5 separate regions of the Homo sapiens genome follow, and regions 1, 2, 3 and 5 are each reported to be linked to region 4. Evidence: microRNA targets listed by miRTarBase, many of them from high-throughput screens and not tested one by one. Region 4 holds a microRNA gene; each other region holds the end of a gene's coding sequence.

Region 1 (6,054 bases), not on the chromosome of region 4:
TTTTCCAGAGGAAAGCATCACATTTAAGAGGACAGACTAATGAAACTGTTGTCTTCCCTTGGCTTATTTCTTGGCCTACACCACAGAGTGAAAGTGACCTCTTTAGCCCATTGTGTCAATATAAACCAGATTTGTTAAATGTGCTTTTATGAAAGCAGATGTTGCACATTTAACCCCTGTAGCAGATGGATCCTCACAAAGATGTCTTGCACTGTCCAGTAGTGAATCCTCAAATTTAAAAAAATAATAATTTCCATCTAGGACAAAGAACAGGAACTGGAGCAGTTGACTAAGGAGTTGCGGCAAGTCAATCTCCAGCAGTTCATCCAGCAGACAGGGACAAAAGTTACCGTTTTGCCAGCGGAGCCCATTGAAATAGAGGCCTCACATGCAGACATTGAAAGGGGTAAGATGTTGATAAATATGGTTTATTTTCCCTTTATTCTCACTGCTTAACTTTTTTTGTTTTTGTTTTTTGAGATAGTATCACTGTATCGCCCAGGCTGGAATGCCAGGGGTATTACCACGGCTTACTGCAGCCTCGACCTCCTGGGCTCAGGTGACCCTCCTACCTCAGCCTCCTGTAGCCGGGGCTACAGGTGCATGCCACCATACCTGGCTGATTTTCTTTTTTTGTATTTCTTGTAGAGATGAGGTTTCATCATATTGCCCAGACTAGTCTCAAACTCCTGAGCTCAAGTGATATGCCTGCCTCAGCTTCCCAAAGTGCTGGGATGACAGGCATGAACCAGCATGCCCGACCATCTGCTTAACTTTGAATAAACTACTTGTATTCAGTTAAAATATTACCCTAACATTCATAGCTAATTTTTAAGTGGGACACTTAAAAATTCTTTTTTTAAAAAAATATTTCCCATTTCTAGAGGAAAACCAGTAACATTTAGGTTATTTATTTACTTAGGTGAGCATGTAATCACCAAATGTCATATCATTAGTTTGAAACTACTTCTTTATTAAAACTTTTTTCTGAAGTATATATGAGTTATAGTCTATTAATTTGAATTTTGGCTTCTCTGTTCCTTATGCCCCCCTTTTCCTTCTTTTTCTTCTAAAAGTTATTATTAATTTGTGCTGATATTTAAAAGACAATTCCAAATCTGTGTATGCATATGGTGTGAACAACCAAAAAAAGAAGCAGAATATTCACCTTTTGTAAAGATCATTCACTGTTCAAATCAACAAAAACTAGTTTATCAAAGAGACCTGAGAAGGTTTTAGCCTTCTCCCCCAGCCCAGGGCACACAGGGGATTGCAATTATTGCTCTATGCAGTTTTCCCTTTTGGGGTAGGAAGCAGTCTGATTTTTTATATTGCTAAGTACTCCAAGTTGACGAGCTCATCAGGTGGCTCTCTTTGTTTCCTGTTTAGAGGCACCATTCCAGTCTGGGTCCCTGAAGCGACCTGGTTCATCTCGGCAGCTCCCCAGTAATCTCCGCATTCTGCAGAATCCTATCTCATCTGGTTTTAATCCTGAAGGCATATATGTATGACATTATCTGTCTTTAGGGAGGAGACCCAACAGAGGTACCAAGGACAGTAAACTTCCTTTTTGATTTGTGCCAATGATGAACAGAGGATCTATTCCACAAGACGCTGTATGTTTTTTCTCTCCTAAATTGCATACCACTTGGAGCCATACCCTGTGCACTGATGCTAAAGAACAAAGAAACTGTGTTTTCACACATCAACAGTGTTGATATTTTTGTCCAGCAGCTATAATGCAAAGCCTTCGTTTTTATTTGTAGCATTTTGAGAGCTTTAGGAAAGTATTATATAGTGTGTATACATAAATAAGCCGTGACTTAAGTAAGAGTGAAGAGAAATTTGTGACTGGCTTAGTTTAATTTATTTCATGTAATCAATGTGTGAATGTTGATGTTTTAATATTTTTATTGACTTATCCTGTGACTGACTTACGTTACATATTGTGTGATTATGACCGTGTGCATGTTGCCAGACTCCATCCATGCATTGCTGATTTACACTACACAAGTGTCCTAGGGTGCTCCACCATCGAAGCTAACTCCACAGGAAGCCACTTGCATTTGTTTTGTGAAACTGTCCTAGCCATTGCTTAATTAGGTGAAATAATTCAGGGTTTTTTAAATCTGGAATTTAGTCGTTCCTTTACAATATTTCCAAATATACGTGTGGCCACAGAGCATAACAGATATTTTTCATAAGCTAAATTGTATGTATAAAACATTTGCAGTGTTTCAGACACTGTTGAACAAAAATGTAATTGGTAAGTATGTATCCAAACAGGCATGGGGTTTCCTGATACATTATGTGTTTTGTTTCTGCCCTGTCTTATCATTTACACTCATGGATCTTCAGAATTAATCTAACATGGAAGTTATAGATACCTGAAAGCTGGGTTGGTCTACTTCAGGAACATTGCTTTAAGTGATGTATTTTAAAATAACCCGCTTCATATGTATGATCTGTTGGTGTACACACCATGGGTAAGGTATTGCTTGCACATAATTTGCTCTGCATATTATGGACCATTGTGGTTTCTTCCAGTCACTTAGATGGAAAGGAGGTTAAACCTAGGTACTTTTTAGCAAGGATATAAAGTCAAATTCAGCATATGTTTTTATTTTTAGGCTTGACTTTTACAAGACATTAATCTCCATTTGTACATATGTTATTTTATTTGTAAAACCAAATATGACTCAACACCTTTTTGATGAGTAGTGACTTAACTAAGATTTACAAGTAATATTTAGACAGATTCAGTCAGACACCACTTAGCCATTTTTACATTCCCTCTGGTTAGATTTGGTACAGTATAATTAAGACTTTAATCTGAAATTTAAAGTAGTTTTAATTCTGAAGAAGTTACATCCTCTGTATTATTTACATGCAACAAAATAAAAGTGGATTAATATAGTAATGCCATGGTAACAATAGAGCTATGTCTTATGCATGAAGGCAACTTTGGATGTTTTAACACATTTGACTGACTTTGGTTTAGTGAATGCTGACAATGCTGCTCTACTTAGGTTTCCTATGAAATTTTTAAGAATGGCTATGAGACTGTATAGAAGCTTCTAGAGAACTGAAAGTCATAATGCAGAGTTGCCTTTTCTAGTGCAGCTAAGTGGCGGACCTCAACTGAAGATATGAGTTTCTTTGGGTTCTTGGAGTTATCAAATTGATCTTGCCATTATGTTACTTTGCAAATAACTGAAGTAAATGATTCTTACCTAAATAACCACAACCTGTACACATTTGCTCACAATTTATAGTAGTTATTTTCTATCTACCTATATTTAAAATTAGGATGATTAAAAAATAATTTATAGATTTTGTGACAGTAATGATTTACATATGCCCAATATATGCCTTATTTTTAAATAAGTCATTCTGTATAAAGTCATTTTGTTGTTGTTCAGAGAAATCAAGATCTTATTCACAAAGAAAAACATTTTATAAATTGATCGCATTTTCTTTAAGTCAAAATGTTAAACTGGAGGCAGTATTAAACTTTGCAATTAGGAGTTTCAGAGATGCCTTGGCATACCACGAAAAACACTGTCAATATCCAACTCATTATAAATTGTTATCAGAATTAACCTAATAACTTTAAGTAAGGACAAGCAGCATCCTAGCAACTTGTAGTAGTCTTGGGTTCCCAGCAGAGTATCACAGTTAACCTCTCTGACAACTTCATCAGAATTTCCAAGCTGCCAAATAATCTTCATAGACCTAATTACAGATTTAAAAAAATTTCCTAGGCGACGAAAGTATAGAAATGTGAATATGTTGAATACATTGAGAAGCTGTACTTTTTAATTAGTTATATTACTTCTGGAAGCACATATCTAAGGAATATTTTCTAAGACTCAGAGGGAAAAAAACTCGTTTTCATAGGATCATCTGAAGATACTTTAGTATATTTGTGATCATTTTTATCTATTGCAAATACAAATGAATTAGATAAGTGCCACATCCTGGATACATTTCGGAGGGGTAGTGGGCAATGGTATACAAAAATACCAAATATAAAATTTTCATCTGGGGGAATGTTCAGGTTCTAAATACTAAATTAGATTTCAATGTTTTGTGTTTTTTTTAAAAAAATCATATTGCAACTTGTTTTATTGTGATTTTCTACAAGTATTAAATACATTTAAAGATCTTTTTATCTTACCAAGAAATAATTTGGAATAGCATTGGTATATTTGACCTTTTGAGTGTCTGTCATCCTCAGAGAATGGCCCATAGTGTGTTGCCTGTGGACATAGTGTCCATAGTCCCTTTCTTGTCCTTCTGAGATATTTTGGTTTGATAACATTTTGTTTTTTGTCTTGATGCACAGGGACTTTTTTATAATATGAGACTTCAGTTGGTATTAATAGGAGTTACCTATTTAATTCTCCCAGTCATCAATGAGGTAATCATCAATTCCTATAGTTCAAATTAGTCATAAACAAGAGCTACAGCAAGACTGATAGAGTAAAAACTATATAAATACAGTAAAAAAAAAATAGAATTTATGGTGTGAAATATGAAGTATAGCAATATATAACAAGAACATGTAAGCACTTGCTTCCACAGCATAAATGTAATTTACATCTGCATTAAAGGATAATTTTCTCTGTGAATAAGAGCAAAATGGTCTTCAGAGAAACAGACTGTTCATTTGAAGCCATTTCTGTAAACATCTTCCAAGATAGAACTGTAATGGATTGAGGAAATAACACAGAAAAGACAAAAACTTTTGATTTCAGGCATGCAAAGTGCTTGGGCAGATGGACAGTTCCCATTGTGCATTGCCTTTGATAAATTTGGCCTTAATTTATATAACGATGCTGTGTTCACATCCCTCTCCTACCTAAAGTTGTCTTTATTGGTTTATATTGTGTTAAAATTAGCTTATAATTATTACTTTTGTATTGTGTTCAGTTTTTTAAGTTGCATGTTTATACTATTTGCTACAGTATTTTTAAGTTTGGGGTGAAGGCCATCAGCTGTATCAAAAAGACAAAACAATCACTATTTATTCAGTATTGCTGCTTTACATCTCCAGAATAAGCTTTCGATGCCAGGACAGTGACTGCCTGAAAGCTGCAGGAGCTCTTTTCAATGCATTTTATATATTTTTAGAAACCAAATAAATGCAGAAAACTATTTCGTATACTAATTATATTAAACCAGCAGAAATATAAAGGCAATAAAGTATATACATATATATGGGGGGAGGGGAAAGATTAAAAAATAGATTTACAGCCAGACATGGTGATAGCCCTAAATGTATTTCTCAATATGTTTTTCTTTATTGACCCTAGGAGGATTTGAGTTGCTGCAGCTTTAAACAGAAAATTGCCATGTTCACTAATTGTGAGCACATAAATATGCTTTTAGTACTGCTTTGCTTATGTACAAATAAATCTGTAATATGTATTATATGTAATTATCCTTTTCTTTGACTTTCATTTTAAATGTATATTTTCTGATCATTATGAGCTGTAAAACAAAGAATCAATATTGGATATTCTCCCAAATAATAAATTTTCAGGATTCATTGGGGCATTACAGTTGTCAGTTTGTTTCTTACATCCTTTATATTTTTAAATACAATTTTACTTCCTTTAAAAGATACCAAAGAGAATAGTGGCACATATCACTACACATAATTACATTTTTCATATATACTTAAAGAATCATCTACTGCTCCAAAGATGGCTTCATCAAAGTAAAACTGAATTAAGAAACTACTATGCCTTTTATTTCAAAAGTGAAAGAAGAAATGATATCTTAATGAATCTCTGTATTCCCAGATTTCCCTAAAACCATAAGTGAGAGGAAGAGAACTAACATTTCAGTCCCTACTACGTGCCAAGTGCAATATGGGGCACCGGTCACACTTTAAACATTCACAGCCATCCAAGGAACTGCTCCTAAATCACACAACCCCTAAGTAACTGACATAGCATTTGAACTTAGATGTTTCAGACCTCAAGGCACTTTTCTGTATTCCATGGTAGAGATGCATGAGCTTTACGGTGCCCAGTTTCTGCATTT
Region 2 (6,054 bases), not on the chromosome of region 4:
GCCTTAGGTTCAAATCCCAGCCTTACCTCTGACTAACTATGTGACCTTGAGCGAGTCATTTGATCTCTGAGCCTTAATGTCCTCTGAGCTTTAATTTCCTCATTTGTAAATAGAAGACAAAAGCTACTTCACAGCCCTCAATGAGACAACATATGAATAATGCTAAGCACGGTGCTAATACAAAAGAAAATGCTCAACAAATGTAGATTCTCTGCTCTCACTCCCCATTCAAAGTCACAGAATTAATCAGAGGTAAACTCACTGTAGATGCCAGATCTCTTGTTTTCAAGAGACTGCACTTCAGTTTGTACAGAAGTTTATGATATCTTTGAACTTTGTTTTTGAGGGTTTGTCTTTAATAAATGGTTCTATTTGTTTTTCATTTTTTGTCTTTTTAAGGTACTAACATGGGATGTGGGAAAAATTACTCCACAAAAGCTCCCAAGTCTTAAAGGACTGGTAAATTTACAGTCTGGAGCCCCCAAACCAGAAGAGAATCCGAGCCTCAACATACAGTTTAAGATCCAGCAGCTTGCTATTTCAGGTAAGGATAAGGTTGACTTGTAGTTAAGGGTAATTGAGTTTTGCAAGCTCATTTATTAGGCATTTAGAAGAGTAACAAAAGTTTCCTTCTCTAGAAAGAGCAGTAGCCCATTTGCCTTTTATACTGTGCTTGGTGGGGCAGTCTCACAGGCACCGACCAAATGATTTTTCAGAGCACCTTATTTCAAACAGCTTCCCCTCACCTCCGCCCTCATTTAAGCACCAAAAAGAGAGTTATTCATATTCACAGAAAGTAGAATTATACTTCACAGACATTCCCTGCCTGTGTGGGAATCTTAACCAAAACCATACCATCAAAGTGCAATAATTTGTAAATGATAGAAGAGACATTTCTTCCAAATGGTGGAAGGGACACTGGTTAATGTCAGATTTACCATATAGCGCTCATTGCTAACATTATATTGGTTGGGATGATGATAATTTATTCTTTTTCATTCTTTTTGATACAGGCTTAAAAGTAAACCGTTTGGACATGTATGGGGAGAAATATAAGCCATTTAAAGGAGTCAAATACGTCACGAAAGCTGGAAAGTTCCAAGTGAGGACATGAGAAGAGGCCAAAATTCCTCAGGACCAGTTTGTTTTCCAAGTGTCATTACGATGTATCACTATTAGGTACCAAGTGAGTGGGAATACATATTCTAGTTAAAGCATTTGTGTCTAGCTACACACCGCTAACAAAGTTACTTAGTTATCAATGTAGGATTCTTAAGGAGCTTTAAGCTAAGGAAACCTTTTAGTGACTTAGCTTATTTTGTATCTTTTCACTTAGGAAGATTTTGGAGGTGATTTTTTTCCATAGGAGGATACCATCTGGCGGCTGCACATTGTAACAGTAAAGGCAGAAAGCTGTAGTGATAACCTCTCTCCTAAAAGAGTTAACTGGTCTCATCCAGCAGAAGCTATCTTAAATCTGTGATGTGTCAGGTGCAGCCAAATATCACACCTTCTGATCTTAGCCATCCCAAACCAGTATCTGTCCCGAGAGGAAATTCCCCCCACCCCCAGAAGTTTACAGAAAACTGCCTCTTCAAGTGTTTGCCTTATTCAGCTTTTCACTTGTGCCATTAAGCAAGCACTGTAGCAAAAGCCACTTCCACATGGCCCTGGCAGGGAGCACTGCTGCTCCATGCTCCATTCTCACTGTACTTGGTATTGTATTTTTTATAAATAAGATTTTTATGTAAAGCTTAGAATTTGATTTACAGGGACCTTGCTGCAGTAAATACCATCTCAATTTTGTGCCACTGGTTCAGCTGTTAGCACAGTAAAAAAATCATTTGTATCAAAGGGGCAAATGCTTTATTAAGGTAGTAAAAGGGAACATTACTTCTGCTTTTAGGAAGTTACTGCAAGCACAAGCATTTGTGCTTTTAAGCAAATTAAAGTAGTAAAAGAAAAACTTAAGTGAAACCTTTGCCATCTTCATGTTTTATAATATAAAGCTTACCCAACACCAGTTAAGCCATGGTTAACCTAAATGCCTCATGCCCCAGTTCAGCAAAAGGAGGAAAATGTGCCTGCCTCACAGTCATCAGTCTTTTTAAATCTTTTTTGTTGTTGTTCTTAAGGGTTTGAATTTGTCTGCATTCCTTGTCTTTAGGGGAAATTCCCTTTTCATATTGTGTGCTTCCCAAAGCTATAGTCATAGATTTCTTCCAGAAACTATTGTCATAATTGTCACTGGAGTGCTTAAATATACGTACTATACTGACAAAATACATGGAAGTGAGTTATAATGAGGCAGAAACAAAATCCTCGGTAACATTGATGATACTCTACCGATCACCGTGGTTTTGGAAAGTCAGTCAACAGTTGTATTATTGCACTCAATTTCATTGTGACATTTTATTTAACTTCTTCATCTTGGTGGTCCTTGCCCAGTTATTTTGCCTCATTAGACATCAAGAAATGGAGAAAGACTGAAAGTTAATATCTTAAGTGCTTGTTCTTCATGTTTCCTTCTTGTTATTTATGCTATTCTCTTTGTGGCTCCATTCTTCTTTCAATCTTCTCAGCTTATAACCGTCTTTCCCTTATGCTAAGGATAGCCCTTACACTCATCCCATCTATGCTGTCAAGGGCTGCTGGTTGGTGCTGGTACAAGGAGCCCACTCAGCAGTTTTCTTACCTTTGCCTGCCCTGCCTTTCATGGAATAAGAAAGGCAACGTTTTGCAGCTTCCAAATTTCTGAAGAAACTAATCTCAGATTGGCAGTTAAAGTCAAAATGTTGCCAAATATTTATTCCTTTTGCCTAAGTTTGGCTACCCGGTTCAATTGCTTTTTATTTTTAATGTCTTGACTCTTCAGAGTTCGTACCTCAAAAGAACAATGAGAACATTTGCTTTGCTTTCTGCTGAATCCCTAATCTCAACAATCTATACCTGGACTGTCCAGTTCTCCTCCTGTGCTATCTTCTCTTCTATCCAAGTAGAATGTACGCCAGGAGCTCCTTCCCTCTAGCAATTTCTACTAAAATGTCCAAGTAGAATGTTTCCTTTTACAATCAAATTACTGTATTTATTAATTTGCTAGAATCCAGTAAATCATTTTGGTAGCTCTGGCTGTGCTATCAATAAAAAGATGAAAGCAACAAGTTGATTTTTTTTAGGTCTACTATTGATTGAACATTCTCCAATGGGCAAGGCTCATTGTCAAAGCAGGGTGAACATGATCAGATTTTCTTCTGCATCATCACACAAGCTGCGAGTGTTGCTGCAAAGCACTTCTCAGTACTCCTTCCCTAACCTCAGTATGTTAATAGCCATTCATACTTGGCTTAAGCATCACCATTCTGGCCACAGTCTGAGAGATTAGTGATCAAAGCTCCCTTCCCTATCACTACCACCACCTACTGATAACAAAGATTTCTGAATACTTAGTAGTAGTAAAATATTTTTCAAGCACAGAGTTACAGCTAATCCTGGATCACTTGTTCTAAATTCATAAGGGAGTATATCAAGAGCAAATGAAGTAAATGATTCTTTCCTGCGTGTGGGAGTCACCATCATTTTATTCAAAGGGAGTTCCTGTGATAGGTTCATTCCTTAAGTGGTGCTACAGAAGGACCCTAGGAAAATGCTGATCTTGTCCTGAGAGGCAACTGATTTGAGAAAATGATTATACTACAGCAGGAAGGCAGCACCAGTGAACATATGGTAAATGGCAAAAACAAGACAGTTTTAGAAACTGCTAATTCAGTAGCAGCCTTGGCCTTTCCCTTAACTCAAGCAGGCTGGAATCTGTCTTTATAGTCGGCAACTTTCCAAGATAAAGCAGTGATAATAGCAGTTGGCAACACTAAATATCAATATCATCACCCTTTAATGACATGTTACCCCTTTCAGATCTAGAAAATCAGGGAAAAAGTGATGTCCCAACTCTACTCTAAAAACCTGCTCCTACTATTTTAGTCAGTGTTTCTTTAAGGAAGAAGAGGACTATGTCCCCAAAAGCTAACTCTGTTTTATAGCCCTGGTGGATCCCTGAAAACCCTATTTATTCTATACTGGGCTTTGGAATATGAAAAATGGACCTGTGTGGCCGGGCGTGGTGGATCACACCTGTAATCCCAGCACTTTGGGAGGTCAAGGTGGGCGGATCACTTGAGGTCAGGAGTTCGAGACCAGCCTGGCCAACATGGTGAAACTCCATCTCTACTAAAAATACAAAAATTAGCCAGGCATGGTGGCGCACACCTGTAATCCCAGCTACATGGGAGGCTGAGGCAGGAGAATTGCTTGAACCCGGGAGGCAGAGGTTGCAGTGAGCTGAGATTGCACCACTGCACTGCAGCCTGGGCAACAGAGCAAGTCTCTGTCTTGCAGCAGGGGGAAGGACCTGTGGTACTCCTACAAACTTAACAACTTTAGCTTTTCGGGGAACAGTGGTGGTCTCCACAGATAGCTAGAATCTTCTAAGATGAAAATAAACTGTTTCATCCAGCTGCTTTCTGCCTGTTAACCTTTGCCACTTCCATTCCTTCAAGTGTGTAATCCCCAGGGTTGTCTTGTATTACACACATCCTTGTTAAGTAAATATACCACTGTTGATTTCTTCTTCCAGTGCAACATTTGGATTAAATAAAAATCTTTAGTTTCCAGATCTTGAGGATTAGTTTCATTGACTATTCATCAAAACAAAGGAGAAACCTGACCTAAAAGTTCTTGCTAAAGTAACATATCCATCATTTAAAGCATTTTTTATACAAATGCATTTTATTGTTTTAAACAGAACAAAAGAAGAGGCAGAAAATATTTGCATATAACAAATCCTAGCTTATAAATGTAGTTTTTTAGCGGTGATGTCTCTAATCATCATTCAGGGATTTTTTTTTTTTTTTTTTTTAATTTGCTTCACTGTGTCTCGAGCACTGATATTGGAGAAAAGCACATCCGGCATAAAGTGTAAACCAGTGTCTCAAACCACTGGAAGAACCGGGAGAGCAAACATGATTTTTCTTATTTCCTCTAAGTAATCTTTCTTTAGTAAAACAACAAGTGATCTTTGGCATAGATTCATACTTTAAAGGCATTAATATTGCATTTATATCAGGCAAGCAACTATACAAATATGCTGAGGGCCTTGAAAATAATCATCCTCATTATAAAGGAAATAGTGAAAGCCTGAGTGTAAAGGACCAACTTAAGTTGTACACATTCGATGTTGGGAACTAACACACAGCGATGGGTGGGAAGGAAGGATGTTCAGGCAAGGTTCTTACTCCTTTACTCATCTGGTTCTGGCTTTGGGAAAAAATAAGGTTTCATGTGCTGGGAAATACTTAGCAGTAATAAGTACCAAAAAGGAAACACTGCCCTCTCATTTTGCCTAGTAGGAACTTACTGTGGTGATAAGAAATATGAAACCCATTACTCTCTTGAACCCCATACTTGGGAGTAGATGCAGAGAGCTTGGTTGTAGTTGGTTGCAGGGAGGTAGGAATTACAGGAGTAGTATTTCCCATTGATTCATCTTCAGCAGCACTAGAATTCTAGTCTGCAAATACCACTCTCCCTTAGGCAGGAAGTGTCCTTCAGACAGGGCTGCCTTGCCATTAAACACTCTTAGGGGACAAGCACTCCTCTTTCTTAGGACTGAATTTAAAAAGGATCTTTTAGAGTTACAGATGAACAAACACCTACATGTCTTTAAAATCTTGTTTAGAAAGGATGTGGAGGAAGGCTACAAAAACCAGGATAGGAGACATGTTTTGGTTAAAATTAAAATGCAGCATTTCAGCTCAAAATGAACAATTAAGAGCTAAGAATGAATGATAAGGCCTCAGCACAGACCTCTGCAGGCAGTGACTAAGCATGGAGTGCCGGGAGTGGCCCTGCTGGGAAGATGGCAGGGCCACACCCTGGCTACTCTGCCCTTCCAGTGGCAGAGAGCACCAGGACACAGTGTGTTCATGGGATGGCTACCTTGGCGGGCTGAGGCAGGATATGGGACGGGAAGTTTCCCTAGCACAGACATTGCTCAGGGGC
Region 3 (6,054 bases), not on the chromosome of region 4:
AAAAACTATAAAATAATTATCAACCTACAAATGTATGCTTAATAAATCTTTCATGAATAAAGGTGACAGTTATTTAAAATAATTTGCTACCAACCAACCCTCATTAAAATAATTTCTAATAGATGTTCTTTATGAGGAGGAAATTTGATTCCAGAGGTAGGTGGAGGACCATAGAAGAGGGAATGGTGTTTGAAGAAGTTGTAAATGTGTGGTTAAATCTAAACATTATCTACATAAAATGATAATAATGGCACCTTATTTTATGGATTATATTAACATTAAAAATTCATAGTATAAAAGATGAGGTAAATAAAGTTAAAAATTAGGCCACATATTAGAAAATATTTGTAATGCAAGCACAATAAGAATTAGAATACAGGTAATAACAATAGTAATAATACCAAACATTTAGAGACCACTTATGGGTCAGGCACAAATGTAAGCCCTTCATATGTATGTTCTGTAAGTTTAAGTATGTAAGTCTATACATATGCATATATCTGATACACTTATAAACTTATATATAATATACACATATACATACATATGTACATACATACAAATATACCTGTATGGAAACTTATTTAACAACCCTGTGAGCTAAGTATTATTTTCTTTAGTTTCTAGATGAGTAAACTGAGACAAAGAAACATTAAGTAATTTGAAGTAATTTGTTCCAAGTCACTTAGTCATTGGCAGATCTGGAATTCAACTGAAGCAATGTAGCTCCTGTTAACAAAGGATCAATATCCAGAATAAGGAAAAAACTCCTAAACACCAATAGGGAAAAAAAATAGGAAAACACAGGCTAAGAATATTGAACTGGCCATTCACAGAAGAAATCTGAAGAGCCTGTAAATATACACAAAGGTGTTCAATGCCATTAACAATTATGGAAATAGAAATTAAATCACACTAGTTAAATAAGCCAAGAAAGGTCTGCTAAAGCCAAGTGTTGGGGAGAATGTGGACAAACGACAACTCTTTATAATGCTGATGGAAATTAATGCCGGAACCACCACTCTGGAGAGCAAGTGGACAATATCTGGTAAAGCCGGAGATGTACAGCCTGTGATCCAGCAATTCTACATCTGGGCTATAGTCTAGAGAGCCTGGTTCACACTGGAAAACAACTCAATGTTAGTGTGTGGGAGGATGGATCCAGAAAGTGGTACATGCATTTCATGATTCTATTCTGCAGTTAAAAATGCATTATATCTAAATGTAAATAAATCTATAAAAGACAATATTAAGTGAAAAAAGTTTTGGAAAGATATATAGAGCATGAGATGTATGCAACTGTAACAATATTACATAGTGTTTACACATAGGTACATATATGTAAAGACAGCATGGGAAAGATTCACACGAACTACAGGTTAACAGAGAACAGAGAGGGAGTAGAGGGGGATTGGAGATGGGCACAAAAGGGGCTTCAATCCCATTTGCAAAATTATTTTTAAAAAACTGGTAATATTAACACATATTATCATTTTTTAGGTCTGAGTGTGGGATCATGGTATTTCATTATGTTAATCCTGAAATTTTTCTGTTTACTTGAACTATTTCATTAAAAATAGAATTGTATCTTGTTACACAGCTATAAAATAGTATTTAAAACCCTTGCATCATGAGACAGCTATAAGGATAAATCCTACAGTACTGTTTCTAGAATAAGAAAGATTCTCCCAACACAATTTTAAGGCTTCAAAAGCACTTTGCGTTCTATAATCTGTGGTTGAACCCAGCATTTAAGTCAAAAGCCTCCAGAAGGCGTCAGAAGCAGTGGTTGTAGGATGTTTCTACATCAGTACCATAATTTGTCTTGCATCACTTTTTATTGCTTATCATGTGCCAGGCACTGGATAAGTGCTTTACACATTAGTTCATTTAATCTTCCCTACAACTCTATGGGGTAGGTAGGTTATTTCCATTTTACAAATTATTTCCATTGTACATTTGAGGAATGAGGAAGTTAACTTGCCCAGCTAGTAAATGGTGAACCCAGGCAGTCTGGCTCCAAAACCTAGGCACTAGACTAAACGATTTGCGGCCATCTGGGTGAACTGATCTTGTGTCCCCTCCTGCGAAAACCCATCCTGGTCTTTTTTCCATCCAGCTACCTATTTTCTTTCATTAATCACCCATAACATTCTCTCTTACATTCTTATAATCTCCACTCTTCCTTCCTTAAGCATGAGGTATGTGGACAAGGGGAAAAGGGCCAAATGAATGGTTTTGGAGAGGAATACTTACTTAAGAGCTGAAGTTATCTATCTACGGCCAATGAAATGTTACACTTGGTTCACTTCTGGGTGTACTCCAAATGGTATTATACATTCATTTGGTGGAATAGCTGTGTGATCTTTCAAATATTGGATATACATTTCATGCTGAAAATATGCTACAGAGGTTGGTAATACTTAATGTCAACAACATACATCTTTTGAAGTTATGTGTCAGCAATTTTCCTAAGCACTAGATTGAGAGAGTATAATGCAAAGAATAGCTTGCATTTATAAAATATTTTAAACATATGGCTTTAATTAATTGCCCAAGTGTTCAAAAAATAAACTGAAGCCTGACTGACTGTATAATTTTAATATTTGAAAAATTGCATCCAGAAATTAATACAATACAGATTTGTACAAAAAAGGAAGGACGTAAAAACTTCTAATCATACAGACAAAAATATGACTGACTAAGCAAAGATTTTAAAAAAGGACAGGATGTTTAAAAAATACTGATAAATACTGTGTAATGCTTTAATTTACTGTGGCAGATACAAAAATCAATAATTCATTAACAGATTATATATGTAAAAAAAGTAACTACATGAATTTTCTAGCTTTTTAAATTAATAAAATGTAACAGTAGTGGTTTTTATTTTTTAAATGAGGTATTATTACACTGTAAACCAAAAACAGAGCACAAATAAATAAAGGCAATGTGCAATTTAGTGATAAATGATTATACATTTCAACTTAACAACAGATAACAAAAATTCTCTAGTTATTTATGGACTTCGTCATCTAAAAATTTGGCTTGCTTGTGTGGACTTCTTATTTAAAAGTGACACAGCTAATCGATATACAAGCACATCATTAAACATGCAGACCAAGCCAACACAATTTTTCCATGAGTCATCTCTACCAAATAAAAACTGTTTACATTTTATTTAAAACACTTAAATCTGGTTTCTTATACATGTTTCTTTTGTGCTTATAAGTGGTAACCTACATTAAAAAGCTGATTTTCTAGTTCAAGCAGTGTAAGAGAGAAGCAGTTTTATTTGCATATGGATTTAAAACAGAGCAAAATGAAACAAAACCAGGATGCCTTTAACTCTCTTAGGCTTTCCAAGATTTTTAAGAAGAAATACCCTTGAAATAATATACCCAAATGGAAGAGCAGAATCACTTCCATCTCCAAGAGAATAGTAAACAAAGTGACCCCTTTTCCTCAAAGATTTGTGGGTTGGCTTCAGAACTGTTGGAGAACAAGCTGATTAGTTCCTCCACCCTGGAAGAATTCTGCTGGTTGGGTGCAGGAAGCATAGCAAGAAAATAGCCTAGCCCAGAAAGATTTTGGGGAAAGTATTATTTGCATATGAACCATATGCTGGTACTAAATGCTGGTTTCATTATTATTGCAAATATAACTTCAGAGTTTTCTGAAGGAAAGCTGTTAAAGTATGGTAGAGAAGTCTTGGTTTGGCAATATTTGTAACATGCTAATAAAACTGCTTCATTTGCTGTAAATTAAAAAAAACATTTACTGTCTGACTTAAAATGCAGTTTCTTTTTACATACTACTTTATTAGAAACTCTAAAAAAAGGGTACTTTGAATTTATTATATTCAGAATCCAGTGAAAAACAAACATTTTGGCCAAAACGTTGAATTTTATTTTTATACTAAGCTATATCATTTTGACACAAGTGTTATTATTGTATTCACTTTTGTCAAATACTTTAACCTATCTTTTTCAAAAATTAGTGTTTTGGTACAACTGGTGATCAAAAAATGTAGATATAAGTCTTGTACATGATTCAAAAGATTTATAAAAGCAGTTATATTCTTTTGTGCTTGTAACTGACATACTTCATCAATGATTATTTAGGTCTGATTTCTTTTCTAATATCTTGAGCCTTAAGAAGAAATGATCATTATACAAATATTACAGAGTACACAAGTAACTAGTTTACTGCCAATGTGCATGCAGACTAACAACACTTAAAAGAATATAACCTTGAATCCAATTAGTCTGAAAATACTCTTGTACAATCATCTTTATTGATTTGTAAAAGCTGTGTACACATCTAAAACCCTGAATTTACTTTGTAAAAATAAATCTTTAACAATAAATGGCACTATCAAAATCCCATTATTCTCAGGCTATTATGTAGTTATTTACATGCTTTTCAGCAACTGCTGAGAAGAATCTTATAGGTCCCAAGCCAGTATATCAAAAATCCCTGTAAACTGCATTTGCAATGATACTGTGTTGTATACCACTATATGAAAATATGGCTACATGCCTTATGTTAAAGATAATGTAGCTGTTTGCTTTGCTACTGTGTGCTAGCAGTGCTAGCAGTGTACAATCTGCCACTGGGTTCAACTATACCATAAATTCATTCTTCACTGTACTTTGCTTTCCCAGTGGAATGCCTGTGACAAACTACTTGTGGAGAATGATAAAGTGCTATATAAAAGAGGAACTGGACCATACCTGTCTCTGCCATGTGGACTTTTCCTCACTCAAGCGATTTCTGTGTGTGTTTTTAGAAAATTATGCCTTTGCTGAACATACTTCATATTTGATTTTTTAAAAACTTAATATTTTAAAGTTGGTGAGCTTTGTCAAAGTGTTTTGAGACAGAAACATGAAAAGGCTAAAGGCACAGTAAGAGGGAAGTGAATGCTACATATAAAAGATTATATTTCAAGTCTTCTAGGTTACTCAAGTCCAAAACCTTCTGAATTTGAAATTCCAATGATCAATTTCTGTTTCAGATCCTTTTTGCTCTTGTAGGGGGGAAGGCAAAGTTGATTGAAGCAGGTATGGGCCACAGGTAAGCTAGGGAAAAAAATTAAAAAAAAATACTAAGTCTTGAAACACACACAAAATGACTGCTATGCAACTTTAAAAAATACCAGGACACACACATTCAAATCTATTTCACTCTGTTAAGAGATGACTCATCCATTTCTTCACTGAACAGATATTTACTGAGTACCTCACTTTGTATCAGACACCACTCTAGACACTAAGGCTGTGGTTACAGACAAGACAACCAATGTTACCACTTTCATGAAACTCATTTAAGAAGCATTTTGTTGGAGTCAGACAGATATGAATTTGAATTCTGCTTTCCCCACTTACTAGCTGTGGGGTCTTGTTCGAGTTGCATAATATCCCCAAATCCCAGTTTCCTCATCAACAATATAGGGTAAACCATCCAATTAGGCTGTTTAATAACCTAATCAGGTTGTTTAATAACCAGGAGTTCCCAACCCCAGGGCCAGAGATGGGTATGGTTGTTGGTGGCCTGTTAGGAACTGGGCTGCACAACAGGAGGTGAGTGGCAGGCGAGCATTACTGCCTGAGCTCTGCCTCCTGTCACATAAGCGGCAGTATTAGATTCTCATAGGAACAAGGACCCTATTGTGAACTGCACGTGCAAGGAATCTAGGTTGCATGCCCCTTATGAGAATCTAATGCCTGATGACCCGAGGTGGAACAGTTTCATCCAAAACTACCACCACCTCCCACTCTCCCCACTCCTCCCTGGTTCTGTGGAAAAACTGTCTTCCACAAAACCGATCCCTGGTGCCAAAAAGGTTGAGGACTGATGGTTAAAAAGATTAAAAGAGTGATATACACAAAACATCTAGCAGCCGAGGAGTAGATAATATAATGAATGATACTATTATTCCGGTTTTTAGTATTAAAAAGTAATTTAAAAAAGAGCATTTTGGGGACAGTAGATGCCCCTTGATGCACATGTAAAAATTATCTTCTGAATCCTTTTGGTGTCATCTCCCCCACC
Region 4 (6,054 bases):
ACATATTGATGTGTCTGCACAGAGCACAAAGGAATATTGCCTCTAGTTCAGAGCAAACAGTGAATTGTCAGTTAAGCTGGCACGGGGCAGTCTCTAGGACAATGTTAAAGGAGAGACTTACAACATTCTTATAGAAATTCTAAAAATGAGATACTCTTAGAATCTAAAATAGAGCTGTTATATTAAAGTCCATCCTATACAAATTTGTGTTCTTGTGAAGCCCAAAGTGCCTTCATGTTGAACAAAATACTAAATTCAAGATTCATATGCATAAGGGATTTAGATAAGAAAAACAGGTCTCAAAGAACTTAAGAAATCAAGATAGAAAGTACATAGATAAGGTGTCATCAAATTATTAACACACAAATGATAGGAATTATATGACCACAGATCCATATTTTAAACAGCATTATTATATAGAAAGTAGAAGAGTTTTAGACCAGAGACTTACAGTCCAGAAGTAGTTTATTCATCTTTTACTTTGTCATCTTCTCTCAGCAAGTCAAAATTCTCATCTATAAAATGGTAGTACAAATACCCATCCCTTTTTCCCCATAATAGGTTGTCATGAAGAAAAATAAAACAGTGTTTTCAAATGTAATTTGATTTCTTTGAGGAATTTGCACACATAAATCCAATTACACATAGTTGTAAATTTGTTATTCACTTTTTCCTCAAGCTACTAATTGCCCCAAAACAGCTAAGCAAAGCAGCTCAGTTAGGAAACAGCCGACTTTTCTGCTTTTTGATCTGTTTCTGACCTAACTGAGCCAGGCTGGTACATTACTGTTGATAATGGCACATTTTAACAAATTTTATTTAAATACATCAGGAACCCATCACTTCCCAATTTGGATTTGAAAATAACTGCTGGAACAGAGAGCTTGGATAATTTGAACACCTGAGCTTCTACATTAGCTAGAGTAAAAGACAGTCAAGTAAATATATAAACCAAACGCTACCCAGTTTGTACATCTAACCATCACAAAGTCTGTTTTCTATTATGTACCAATGCGGGAGTATCAGGATATCTTCACTAAGCCTAAACTATGAATAGATTGCTTTTTGTGCCATACTGTGTACATGTATCTATTTGTGTCTATAAATATGAGGGAGAAGTTTTAATCTTTGAGCTGAAGAAGAAAGGGGACATGTTGTTGTTGTTTATGGTGATGGTATAAGTACGACAATGATACTTGTGAAAGGAGTATTCATAAAGGCAGTGAAAGGGATAGATGTTGTGTTGTCCCCTTCATTGAACTGATTAACCAGTTTTAAACCTCTGAAAATGAAGGGTTAAGGGAAAAATCTTACAGTTAACATCAAAAATGTGATGAGGCTCTAAGCTTATACAGTGCTGCTTTGAGGTCCAGTGGAGAATTAAAAGGGGGAAACAGCAGAAAGTACCTGTCACCCAGAAGACTCCAGTATCACAGGTAGTGATAGAGGAATAAGCCAATAATTCAGGAATAGTCACGAGCACATGAGAAGTCTTCTTCCAGGGCACATGGGATTCCGTCATGCTAGAGGCATCTGACCTCACCCAGGGAAACAACATTTGACAGTAGACTGAAGCCACACAAAATGGTTTGGATATTGGAGCAATTGAGATATAGCTGTTAATGTTAATGGTATCATATATGTTCTCACAGGGTTGTGAAACCAGTTACATATACCCAACTTATTTATATTTGCAAACTGTATCTATTTCAATATATCATCTCATATTTATTCAGCAACAATTCAATTACCCATTTCAAGAGTAAATTATATATACCATCTTATATATAATCTAAATCCCTTAGCTGAAATGAAATTCTTTTTCTGCTTCAAAACCTCACAGATCTTTTGAGTATTGAACTGTATGCAAATATAATGGCCACTGTGGATAGTTAATATTTTAAATAAATAAGTCACCTTTATAAATACCAAAGTGTTATTAACCATTTTTGAGTCTAGGAACAATATAAGAAAAGGTTGTTAGTGTTAAGGAATGTTTGAGTTATAAGAGATTCTTGCTATTGTAGAATTGATCATCCTTTATAATCCTCCAGCAACTGAAGCCTTTCCTGCATGTGTGGATTTCCCCAGCCACAAAAGCTGAAAATGCCAAACATTCACCACCCTGCTTTCTTTATAATTAGGGCCTGGGCATAAGACATAGGCTCTGCTAATCAGACTTGGTAGTACTAAATTTTTACTAGCAAGAAGATGGCAAAAAAAGTAGAGACCAAAGAAATGTTCTCTGGTGGCTCTACCAGCTCCTGCAAACTGAAGCCCTGCTCAGCTTTGTTAGGGGTTCCTGCAGCTGATATTCCCATTTGGGGTAATAGTGGCTGTGTTTTTCCACCAGACCACTTTTTCCTGTCCGTGTGAATCTGCCCCCAAATTTTCTACCCACTTGGAGCATCTGTGAACGTCCCAATATGCTTTTTTTTTTTTTTTTTTTGAGATGGAGTTTTGCTCTTGTCGCCCAGGCTAAAGTGCCATGGCATGATCTCGGCTCACTGCAATCTCTGCCTCCCGGGTTCAAGTGATTCTCCTGCCTCAGCGTCTCAAGTAGCTGAGATTACAGACACTCCACACCATGCCCAGCTAATTATTGTATTTTTAGTAGAGACTGGGTTTCACCATGTTGGCCAGGCTGGTCTTGAACTCCTGTCCTCAGATGATCCACCCACCTTGGCATCCGAAAGTGCTGGGATTACAGGCTCCAATATGCTTTTAATAAATCCCTTTTCTGTAACTTGTGACATTGAACTCTGATTAATAAACTTGGGTTTGGAAGAGTGATCTTAGTACTTTAAAAAATGTTAAACTATTATTTATCAAAATGGGCATGCTCTTCTATCCTTTATTAAAATCTCTGCCAAAAGTCACCTTATCAGAGAAGCCTTTTCTGACCAACCTTTCTAAAATGCACTCCCTACCAATTGCACCCCCTCGTCCACTGCTGGATTTTCGTTAATATTATTTGTCTCTGACCTGATATTATTTTATTATGATATTTTCTCACTGATACATAAGACCCATGAGAGCACAGACTTGGTATGAGACAGTTTTCTATGAGTTCCTCCACTGCAGCTTTTTTCCTAAATTCATTATAATTTTTATTTCAATAGGTTTTTGGGGAACAGTAGGTGTTTGGTTACATGAATATGTTCTTCAGTGGTGATTTCTGAGATTTTGGTGCATTTATTACCCTAGCAGTGAACACTGTACCCAATGTGTAGTCTTTTATCCCTCACCCACCCCACATCCGTTCTCAAAGTCCCCAAAGTCCATCGTATCATTCTTATGCCTTTGCATCTTCATAGTTTAGCTCCCACTTATAAGTGAGAACATACAATGTTTGGTTTTCCATTCCTGAGTTACTTCACTTAGAATAATAGTCTCCAATTCCATCCAGGTTGCTGCTAATGCCATTATTTCATTCCTTTTTTATCGCTGACTAGTATTCTACAGTATATATCACAATTTATTTATCCACATATTGATTGATGGACATTTGGGCCGGTTCCATATTTTTGCAATTGTGAATTCTGCTGCATAAACATGTGTGTGCAAGTATCTTTTTCATATGACTTCTTTTTCTCTGGGTAGAGGGTAGTTCTACTTTTAGATCTTTAAGGAATCTCCACACTGTTTTCCATAGTGGTTGTACTAGTTTACATTCCCACCACGTTAAAAATGTTCCCTTTTCACCACATCCATGCCAACACCTATTATTCTTTGCATTTTTTTATTATGGCCATTCTTCCAGGAGTAAGGTGGTATCACACTGCAGTTTTGATTTGCATTCCCCTGATCATTAGTGGTGTTGAACATTTTTTCATCTGTTTGTTGGCCATTTGTATATCTTCTTTTGAGAAATGTCTATTCATGTCCTTAGCCCACTTTTTGATGGGATTGTTTGTTTTTTTCTTGCTGATTTGAGTTCCTTGTAGATTCTGGATGTTAGCTCTTTGTCGGATGTATAGATCGCAAAGATTTTCTCCCATTTTGTGGGTTGTCTGTTTACCCTCTGGATTGTTTCTTTTGCCGTGCAAAAACTTAAACTTGCACGGCAAAAGAAACAATCTGCAGGAAAAACAGACAATCACAAAATTTTGCTGTGCTTAATTTAGTTTAATTAAGTCCCCAGCTATTCATCTTTGTTTTTGTTGCATTTGCTTTTGGATTCTTGGTCATGAAATCCTTGCCTAAGCCAATGTCTAGAAGGGATTTTTCTGATGTTATCTTCTAGAATTTTTATGGTTTCAGGTCTTCGATTTAAGTCCTTGATTCATTTTGAGTCAATTTTTGTATAAGGTGAGGGATGAGGATCCAGTTTCATTTTTCCACATGTAGCTTGTTAATTATTGTAGCACCATTTGTTGTTGAATAGGGTGTCCCTTCCCCAGTTTATGTTTTTCTTTGCTTTATCAAAGATCAGTTGGCTATAAGTATTTGGCTTCATTTCTGGGTTCTCCATTCTGTTCCATTGGTCTTCATGCCTATTTTTACACCAGGATCAGCTGTTTTGGTGACTATGGCCTCCAGATTGGTTCTTTTTGCTTAATCTTTCTTTGGCTATGCAGGCTCTTTTTTGGTTCCATGTGAATTTTAGGGGTTTTTTTTTCTAGTTCTGTGAAGAATGGTGATAGTATTTTGATGGGAATTGCTTTGATTTTTTAGATTGCTTTTAGCAGTATGGCCATTTTCACAATATTGATTCTACCCATCCATGGGCATGGGATATATTTCTATTTGTTTGTGTTGTCTATGATTTCTTTTAGCAGTGTTTTGTAGTTTTCCTTCTAGAGGTCTTTCATCTCCTTGGTTAGGTATATTCCTAAGTATTTTATTATATGCAGCTATTATAAAAGGAGTTGAGTTCTTGATTTGATCCTTAGCTTGGTCACTGTTGGTATATAACAGAGTTACTGATTTGTATACATTAATCTTGTATCCTGAAACTTTGCTGAATGAAATCAACATGGAAATTTAAAACTTCTTCGAACTGAATGATAACAGTGACACAACCTATCAAAATCTCTGGGATACAGCAAAGGAGTGCTAAGAGGAAAGTTCATAGCCCTAAATGCCTATATCAGAAAGTCTGAAAGAGCACAAACAGACAATCTAAGGTCACACCTCAAGGAACTAGAGAAACAAGAACATACCAAACCTAAATCAGCAGAAGAAAAGAAATGACAAAGATCAGAGAAGAATTAAATGAAACAAAAAAATACAAAAGATAAATGAAACAAAAAGCTGGTTCTTTGAAAAGATAAATAAGATTGATTAGCCCATTAGTGATATTAACCAAGAAAAGAAAAGAAAAGAGAAGATCCAAATAAGTTCAATTAGAAACGAAATGGGAGATATTACAACCCATACTATGGAAATACAAAAGACCAGTCAAGGCTACTATGAATACCTTTACATGCATAAGCTAGAAAGCCTAGAGGAGATGGATAAATTCCTGGAAATATACAACCCTCCTAGATTAAACTAGGAAGAAATAGAAACTCTGAATCAACCAATAACAAGCAGTGAGATTGAAATGGTAATTTAAAACTTGCCCTCAAAAAAAGTCCAGGACCAGACAGATTCACAGCTGAATTATATTATATGAGACATTCAAAGAAGAATTGGTACCAATCCTATTGATACTATTCCACAAGATAGAGAAAGGGGGAATCCTCCCTAAATCATTCTATGAAGCCAATATCACACTAATACCAAATCCAGGAAAGGACATAACAAAAAAAAAAATGAAAACTACAGACCAATATCCCTGATGAATATAGATGCAAAAATCCATAACAAAATACTAGCTAACCAAATCCAACAGCATGTCAAAAAGGTAATCCACCATGATCAAGTGGGTTTCATACAAGGGATACAAGGATGGTTGAACATAATACAAGTCAATAAATGTGATACACCACACAAACAGAATTAAAAACAAAAATCACATGATCATCTCAATAGATGCAGAAAAATCTAGCATCACTTTATGGTTAAAACACTCAGCAAAATTGGCATAGACAGGACATATTTCAATGT
Region 5 (6,054 bases), not on the chromosome of region 4:
ACACAATTCCACAGATTCTAGGTCTCTGGCCTATAGATCTGGCATTGTCTCCCCTTCTATTAATCCACCAAAATTACAAGTGACATCTTTCCAAGTGTAAAAAGACTCAAGTCTACATTCAAGTTTGGATCTTTACTTGGTACTAGAATTCCACATGTCCACTAATTCTCATTTTTAAAAATACAGTTTCTGCCACATCGCCTCAGCAAAAATGGGATCTCACCCTCATCAGAGCACCGCAATTAGCTCTGGATTATTCCTCAGTAAGAAAGGTGGAAAGCTGGTGAGACACAAGAGAAGGTTCCTAGGAAAGTATTATAATGAGTTAAAGTAATCCTGAAGAAAGTTTGAGGCTGGTGGCTCAAGCCTGTAATCCCAGCACTTTGGGAGGCTGAGGTGGGTGGAACGCTTGAGCTCAGGAGTCCGAGACCAGCCTGGGCAACATGGCAAAACCCCTTGTCTACAAAAAAAACAAGAAAATCAGCTGAGTATGGTGGCACACCCTGTGGTCCCAGCTACTCAGAAGGCTGAGGCAGGGGGGATCGCTTGAGCCCAGGAGGTTGAGGCTGCAGTGAGCAGAGATCATGCCACTGCACTCCAGCCTGGGTGACAGAGAGAGACTGTATCAAAACAAAACAAAATAAAACAAAACAAAAACAAAAACGGAAAGTTTGAAAGAACAGAAATCACGTAGCCTGGCAAGAAGTTGACTAGGGAACTTTTTAGATGATAATTCCCAGAAAACAGTGACAGTATTTTAGATGTAGCTATCCACCCACTTCTCTCTATCCTTACTAACACTGCCTTAATGCAGACCATCATTTCATCCTTGAATTGCTATAACCACTTCCTGTTTCTGACTCGACTTTTGTCCCTTCCCAGGCTAGTCTCTACATAACAGCTAGAGTTATCTTTCTGAAATGTAATTCTGACCACTTCAATGCCTGGCTCCCTACCGCGAGTCTGAACACTACCCTATAACTGCCTATTCATCTTGGTCTTTGCATCTCCTACGTTACTGTAAGCTCCATGAGAGCAGTCAGTTTCAAATTCACAGCTGATGACTCCTGGCACCTAGTACAGTGCCTGGCCTAGTTGGCATATGCATATTGGTTGAATTCACGAATAATATTAAGAAGATCCTCACGCTGAAAAATATTTAGCAACTGAACAAATGGCCAAAGAAAAGCATCTACAACAGAAAAATTAGAAAGTCCTCCTGGTACACCTGGAGAAATTTTTTTTTTTTCTGATAGTGCGAACATGTAAGTTTGCTCAATTTTTTTTTTTTTTTTTTGAGACAGAGTCTTACTCTGTCGCCAGGTTAGAGTACAGTGGCACAATGTAGGCTCAATGCAACCTCCACCTCCCAGGTTCAAGTGATTCTCCTGCCTCAGCCTCCCGAGTAGCTGGAATTACAGGTGCCTGCCACCACGCCCAGCTAATTTTTGTATTGTTTTTTTAGTAGAGATGGAGTTTCACCATGTTGGCCAGGATGGTCTCGATCTCCTGACCTCGTGATCCGCCCGCCTCAGCCTCCCAAAGTGCTGGGATTACAGGCGTGAGCCACTGTGCCCAGCCTAAATTTGTTCAATTTTTAAAAAACTTTGAAGGTCAAAAAGAAAACCAGGTATACATTTTTTGAGACGGAGTCTCGCTCTGTTGCCCAGGCTGGAGTGCAATGGCGCGATCTCAGCTCACTGCAAGCTCGGCCTCCCAGGTTCACGCCATTCTCCTGCTTCAGCCTCCCGAGTAGCTGGGACTAGAGGTACCTGCCACCACGCCCGGCTAATTTTTTTGTATTTTTAGGAGAGACGGGGTTTCGCCATGTTACCCAGGATGGTCTCGATCTCCTGACCTTGTGATCTGCCCGCCTTGGCCTCCCAAAGTGCTGGGATTACAGGCGTGAGCCACTGCGCCCAGCCTAAAAGCAGGTATACATTTAATGTTTAGCAGATGACTAATTGTCCATAAATTTAAAAATTATTCTAAATATATTTTTTAAAGATAAGGTCTTGCTCTGTTGCCCAGCCTGGAATGCTGTGGTGATCACAGCTCACTGCCGCTTCTGGGCTTAAGTGATCCTCTTATCTCAGCCTCCCAAGTAGCCAGAACTAGAGGTGCACACCACTACGCCTGGCTAGTTCTTAAATTTTTAGTAGATACGAGGTCTCACTATGTTTCCCAGGCTTCTCTTGAACTTCTGGCCTCAAGTGATCCTCCCACCTCAACCTCCCAAAGCATTGGGATTACAGGCATAAGCCACCATACCTGGCCCTATTTTAAATTTCTTAATACAAATAGTTTGGTTTTATCAAAGGTGGATTCAGGTTTTGTGGGGGCCTAAGGTTTATATAATTAGAAAACAGGGGAACCTTTTTATGAAGTTAAAAAAAAAATCAGTAAGACTATGCATAATATAAAATTAAGAACAGGGCCAGGCATGGTGGCTGACACCTGTAATCCTAGCACTTTGGGAGGCCGAGGCGGGCAGATCACCTGAGGTCAGGAGTTCGAGACCAGCCTGGCCAACATGGTGAAACCCCTTCTCTACTAAAAATACAAAATTTAGCTGGGCGCCTATACTCTCAGCTACTTGGGAAGCTGAGGCAGGAGAATTGCTTGAACCTGGGAGACGGAGGTTGTAGTGAGCTGAGATTGCACCACTGCTCTACACAGCCTGGGTAACAGAGCAGGACTCCGTCTCAAAAAAAACACTTTTTTAAATTAAATTAAATTAAGAACAGGGTCAGAGAAAACCTAGACAAGCAAGGGCTCTGCAGCTTCAGCTTTGTTAGCTTCACAGTAAATCTACCTCTAGTCATAAAAACAAAATTCCCTTTTTATAATTCCTTCATAATTATAAATTATAAATTATAGGCAAGATGTTCAACACTAATATTTATTGTATATAAAAAGAAAAATTTCTAAGTTGCTAATGAAAATCAACTCTTCTTATCAAATTTCAGTAATTTCAGTAACATATTTGCCCCTTTTATACTACAATAATCTCACAATTATGTAATTGTATAAACCATACTAGAAGCAAAGTGAAGGAAGGTTTTAGTTAGTTGTTAATAACTACATCTGATTCCAGTTGAAAAAACCAGTAATTTTTTAAATGCCTTTTTAATTTTTTTTTTTTTTTTTTTTTTTGAGACAGAGTCTCGCTCTGTCACCCAGGCTAGAAGGCAGTAGTGTGATCTCGACTCACTGCAACCTCTGCCTCCTGGGTTCAAACAATTCTCCTGCCTCAGCCTCCTGAGTGCCTGGGACTACAGATGCAAGCCAACATGCCCAGCTAATTTTTGTGTTTTTAGTAGAGACAGGGTTTCACCATGTTGGCCAGGCTGGTCTCAAACTCCTGACTTAAGATGATTGGCTCACCTCAGCCTCCCAAAATGCCTGGACTAAAATGCTTTTTTTTTTTTTTTTTTTTCCAGTGGCTGTGCTCCACGTATAATTCACAGAAAATAGCTATTGGTGAAGAATAAAAACAACATTGAGAGATCTATTAAACTTATTATCACCCCTTTTACTTATTAAGAAACTAATTATTTTAAAATAAGAATCTTTATGTCAAATAAAAATAAGATGCTAAGACAAGGAAACTGTAAAGCCGTTCTTGTTTTGGCATTTAATTTCAAGTAATTTGAGCTAATGGCACTGTTATGTACTGATGTCACTCTCTCTCATGGAAGGGAGTGGGAAGGGGAGGAAAAGAGAAATCTTGGCTTCAAACAAAATATTCAGATTATGCTGAGACATAAAACAAAAGTGGACATTCTTTATAAACCATGCTGTGCTGAAAGTTGCTGCATGCTGCTGACCCTCTGGGTGGGTTTGTGAGACCTGGGCACTCATTGGGTAACTTGTAGAATCCTTGCCTCTTCCTAGGAATTTAGCCAGAATAGCTTAAACAGTGGCTGGCCTATTCTATAGAATGGGGAGAAGGTGACTCTTAAACAAGGCTGAATGAAAAATAGGCATGGGCTGTCAGGTATCTATGATTTGGTTGAAACAGATAAACCAAGCTGAGAGGTAGAATGTCCTCTCTGGTATTCTGACATTTTAGAAAACTGAGACGACCGTTATCTTTCCCCTTCTTTCTCCTTGTTGGTACAATAAACAGGGCAGGAAATGATGGCCCCTTGTTTTTTTTTTTTTTTTTTTTTTTTTTTTTTGAGACAGAGCCTTGCTCTGTCTCCCAGGCTGGAGTGCAGTGTCAAAATCTCGGCCCACTGCAACCTCCGCCTCCAGGGTTTAAGCAATTCTCCTGGCTCAGCCTCCCGAGTAGCTGGGATTACAGGCCTGTGCCATCACGCCCAGCTGATTTTGTATTTTTAATAGAGACGGGGTTTCACCATGTTGGCCAGGCTAGTCTCAAACTCCTGACCTCAAGTGATCCGCCCACCTAGGCCTCCCAAAGTGCTGGGATTACAGGCATGAGCCACTCCGCCTGGCCTCTTTTACAGACCAAACTCATTGTTTCCATGCCCATCCAGTGCTATAAAAATAATTTAAAAACATAAAAACAGAGTGGCTGATAATGAAGAAAAAATCCTTACAAAGTACTGAATTGAAGCTGAAAGTCTCTCTAAAAAAAAAACAAACAAACAAACAAAAAAAGCCTTTGTGCCAACCAAGTCTCACCCTCCCTTTCCCAAAGATATATATGTTAAACCAAAATAAGGGCAGACCATGCAACATTTTTCACATTTTTAATGTAATGAATTTCTGACGTTATAATGGAGGAGCATAAAGGTGACAACCAAAAACAGCTCTTGTAGTCTAATGTCTTAAAATCCACACCCTTTCACCTTGCATGTGTGGAAGAAGAAAGAGCAGAAGATAAAATCACTTCCACCTGGACCACTGCTTTTCTTTATCTGTTAAAGGCACGTATATCACCCCCATCAGAGGCTTCATTTTGATGCTGCCATCTTGTAGCTTGTCATACTGCTCCAACATTTGGTTTCCGCCTGCAGGACCAACAGGCAATATCAATCTTCCTCCGGGCTTTAACTGATCTATTAGCTAAAAGAAAAAAAAAAAAGCACATACATCACCAAGTTACAGATTTTATTTTATTTTATTTATTTATTTTTGAGACAGGGTCTCACTCTGTCGCCCAGGCTGGAGTGCAATGACACGATCTCAGCTCACTGCAACCTCTGCCTCCCAGGTTCAAGTGATTCTCCTGCCTCAGTCTCCCAAGTAGCTGGGACTACAGGCACACGCCACCATGCCCAGCTAATTTTTGTATTTTTAGTAGAGACAAGGTTTCACCATATTGGCCACACTGGTCTCGAACTCCTAACCTCAAGTACTCCACCCACCTCGGCTTCCCAAAGTGCTTGGATTACAGGCGTGAGCTACTGTGCCCGGCCCAGATTTTATATTAATAGTCATTTGACATCATTATAAACAACTTTTAGTGTCCATAGGCAGAAAGCAGAAACGTTCTTTATTTAGTATATACAAATTAAGGCCAGACACGGTGGCTCACGCCTGTGATCCCAGCACTTTGGGAGGCCAAGGTGGGCAGATCACTTGAGGTCAAGAGTTCAAGACCAGCCTGGCCAACACAGTGAAACTCCAACTCTACTAAAAAAGTACAAAATTAGCCAGGCATGGTGTCAGATGCCTGTAGTCCTATCTACTTGGGAGGCTGAGGCAGGAGAATTGCTTGAACCCAGAGATGGAGGCTGCAGTTAGCCAAGATCACGCCACCACACTCCAGCCTGGGTGACAGAGCGAGACTCCGTCTTAAAAATAAATACATAGTATATACAGGTTGAGCATCAATAATCTGAAAACCCGAAACTGGAAATGCTCCAAAATCCAAAACTCTGAACATCAACATGACACCACAAGTAGATAATTTCACACCTGACCTCATGTGGCAAGTCACAGTCAAAATGCAATCACAACTTTATTCCATGCACAAAATTATTTGAAATATTATACAAAATTACCTTCAGGCTATGTGTATAAGAGGTATAACATAAATGAGTTTTATGTTTAGACTTGGTCCCATTCCCAAGATATCTC

The links. Region 4 holds the annotated microRNA hsa-miR-4445-5p (AGAUUGUUUCUUUUGCCGUGCA, at 4,061-4,082, opposite strand). A microRNA usually pairs through its seed, bases 2 to 8, with sites in the 3' UTR of a target mRNA and lowers its output. Matches are read on the target gene's strand: a 7mer-m8 pairs with bases 2 to 8, a 7mer-A1 pairs with bases 2 to 7 and ends in A, and an 8mer does both.
Region 1: miRTarBase lists RASSF8 as a target of hsa-miR-4445-5p. Seed matches in the 3' UTR shown: 8mer at 5,018-5,025.
Region 2: miRTarBase lists AP3M1 as a target of hsa-miR-4445-5p. Seed matches in the 3' UTR shown: 7mer-m8 at 2,938-2,944 and 7mer-A1 at 3,068-3,074.
Region 3: the mRNA of HECTD2 is a reported target of hsa-miR-4445-5p. The part of its 3' UTR that is shown has no 7-base or 8-base seed match.
Region 5: the mRNA of PCMT1 is a reported target of hsa-miR-4445-5p. The part of its 3' UTR that is shown has no 7-base or 8-base seed match.

What each region holds. Positions count from the first base shown.
Region 1 is chr12:26,067,308-26,073,361 of GRCh38, forward strand. It overlaps RASSF8 (Ras association domain family member 8), which reads left to right. Exons shown (of 6, transcript NM_001394098.1): 5 at 262-406; 6 at 1,390-5,562. The coding sequence ends at 1,511. Among named protein-coding and RNA genes, the nearest start is that of BHLHE41, 55 kb to the right of the region's middle.
Region 2 is chr10:74,118,870-74,124,923 of GRCh38, reverse strand. It overlaps AP3M1 (adaptor related protein complex 3 subunit mu 1), which reads left to right. Exons shown (of 9, transcript NM_012095.6): 8 at 400-544; 9 at 1,014-4,669. The coding sequence ends at 1,114. It overlaps VCL (vinculin), which reads right to left. Exons shown (of 22, transcript NM_014000.3): 22 at 4,755-6,054. Among named protein-coding and RNA genes, the nearest start is that of AP3M1, 29 kb to the left of the region's middle.
Region 3 is chr10:91,511,291-91,517,344 of GRCh38, reverse strand. HECTD2 (HECT domain E3 ubiquitin protein ligase 2) reads right to left here. Exons shown (of 21, transcript NM_182765.6): 21 at 2,525-5,081. The coding sequence ends at 4,961. All of the region lies in intron 3 of HECTD2-AS1 (HECTD2 antisense RNA 1), which reads left to right. Among named protein-coding and RNA genes, the nearest start is that of HECTD2-AS1, 97 kb to the left of the region's middle.
Region 4 is chr3:109,600,863-109,606,916 of GRCh38, reverse strand. It overlaps MIR4445 (microRNA 4445), which reads right to left and starts at 4,089; the gene lies at 4,020-4,089.
Region 5 is chr6:149,801,183-149,807,236 of GRCh38, reverse strand. PCMT1 (protein-L-isoaspartate (D-aspartate) O-methyltransferase) reads right to left here. Exons shown (of 8, transcript NM_001360452.2): 7 at 4,821-5,037. The coding sequence ends at 4,858. LOC107986660 (a long non-coding RNA gene) reads left to right here and starts at 1,898. Exons shown (of 2, transcript XR_001744415.1): 1 at 1,898-1,934; 2 at 3,444-4,112.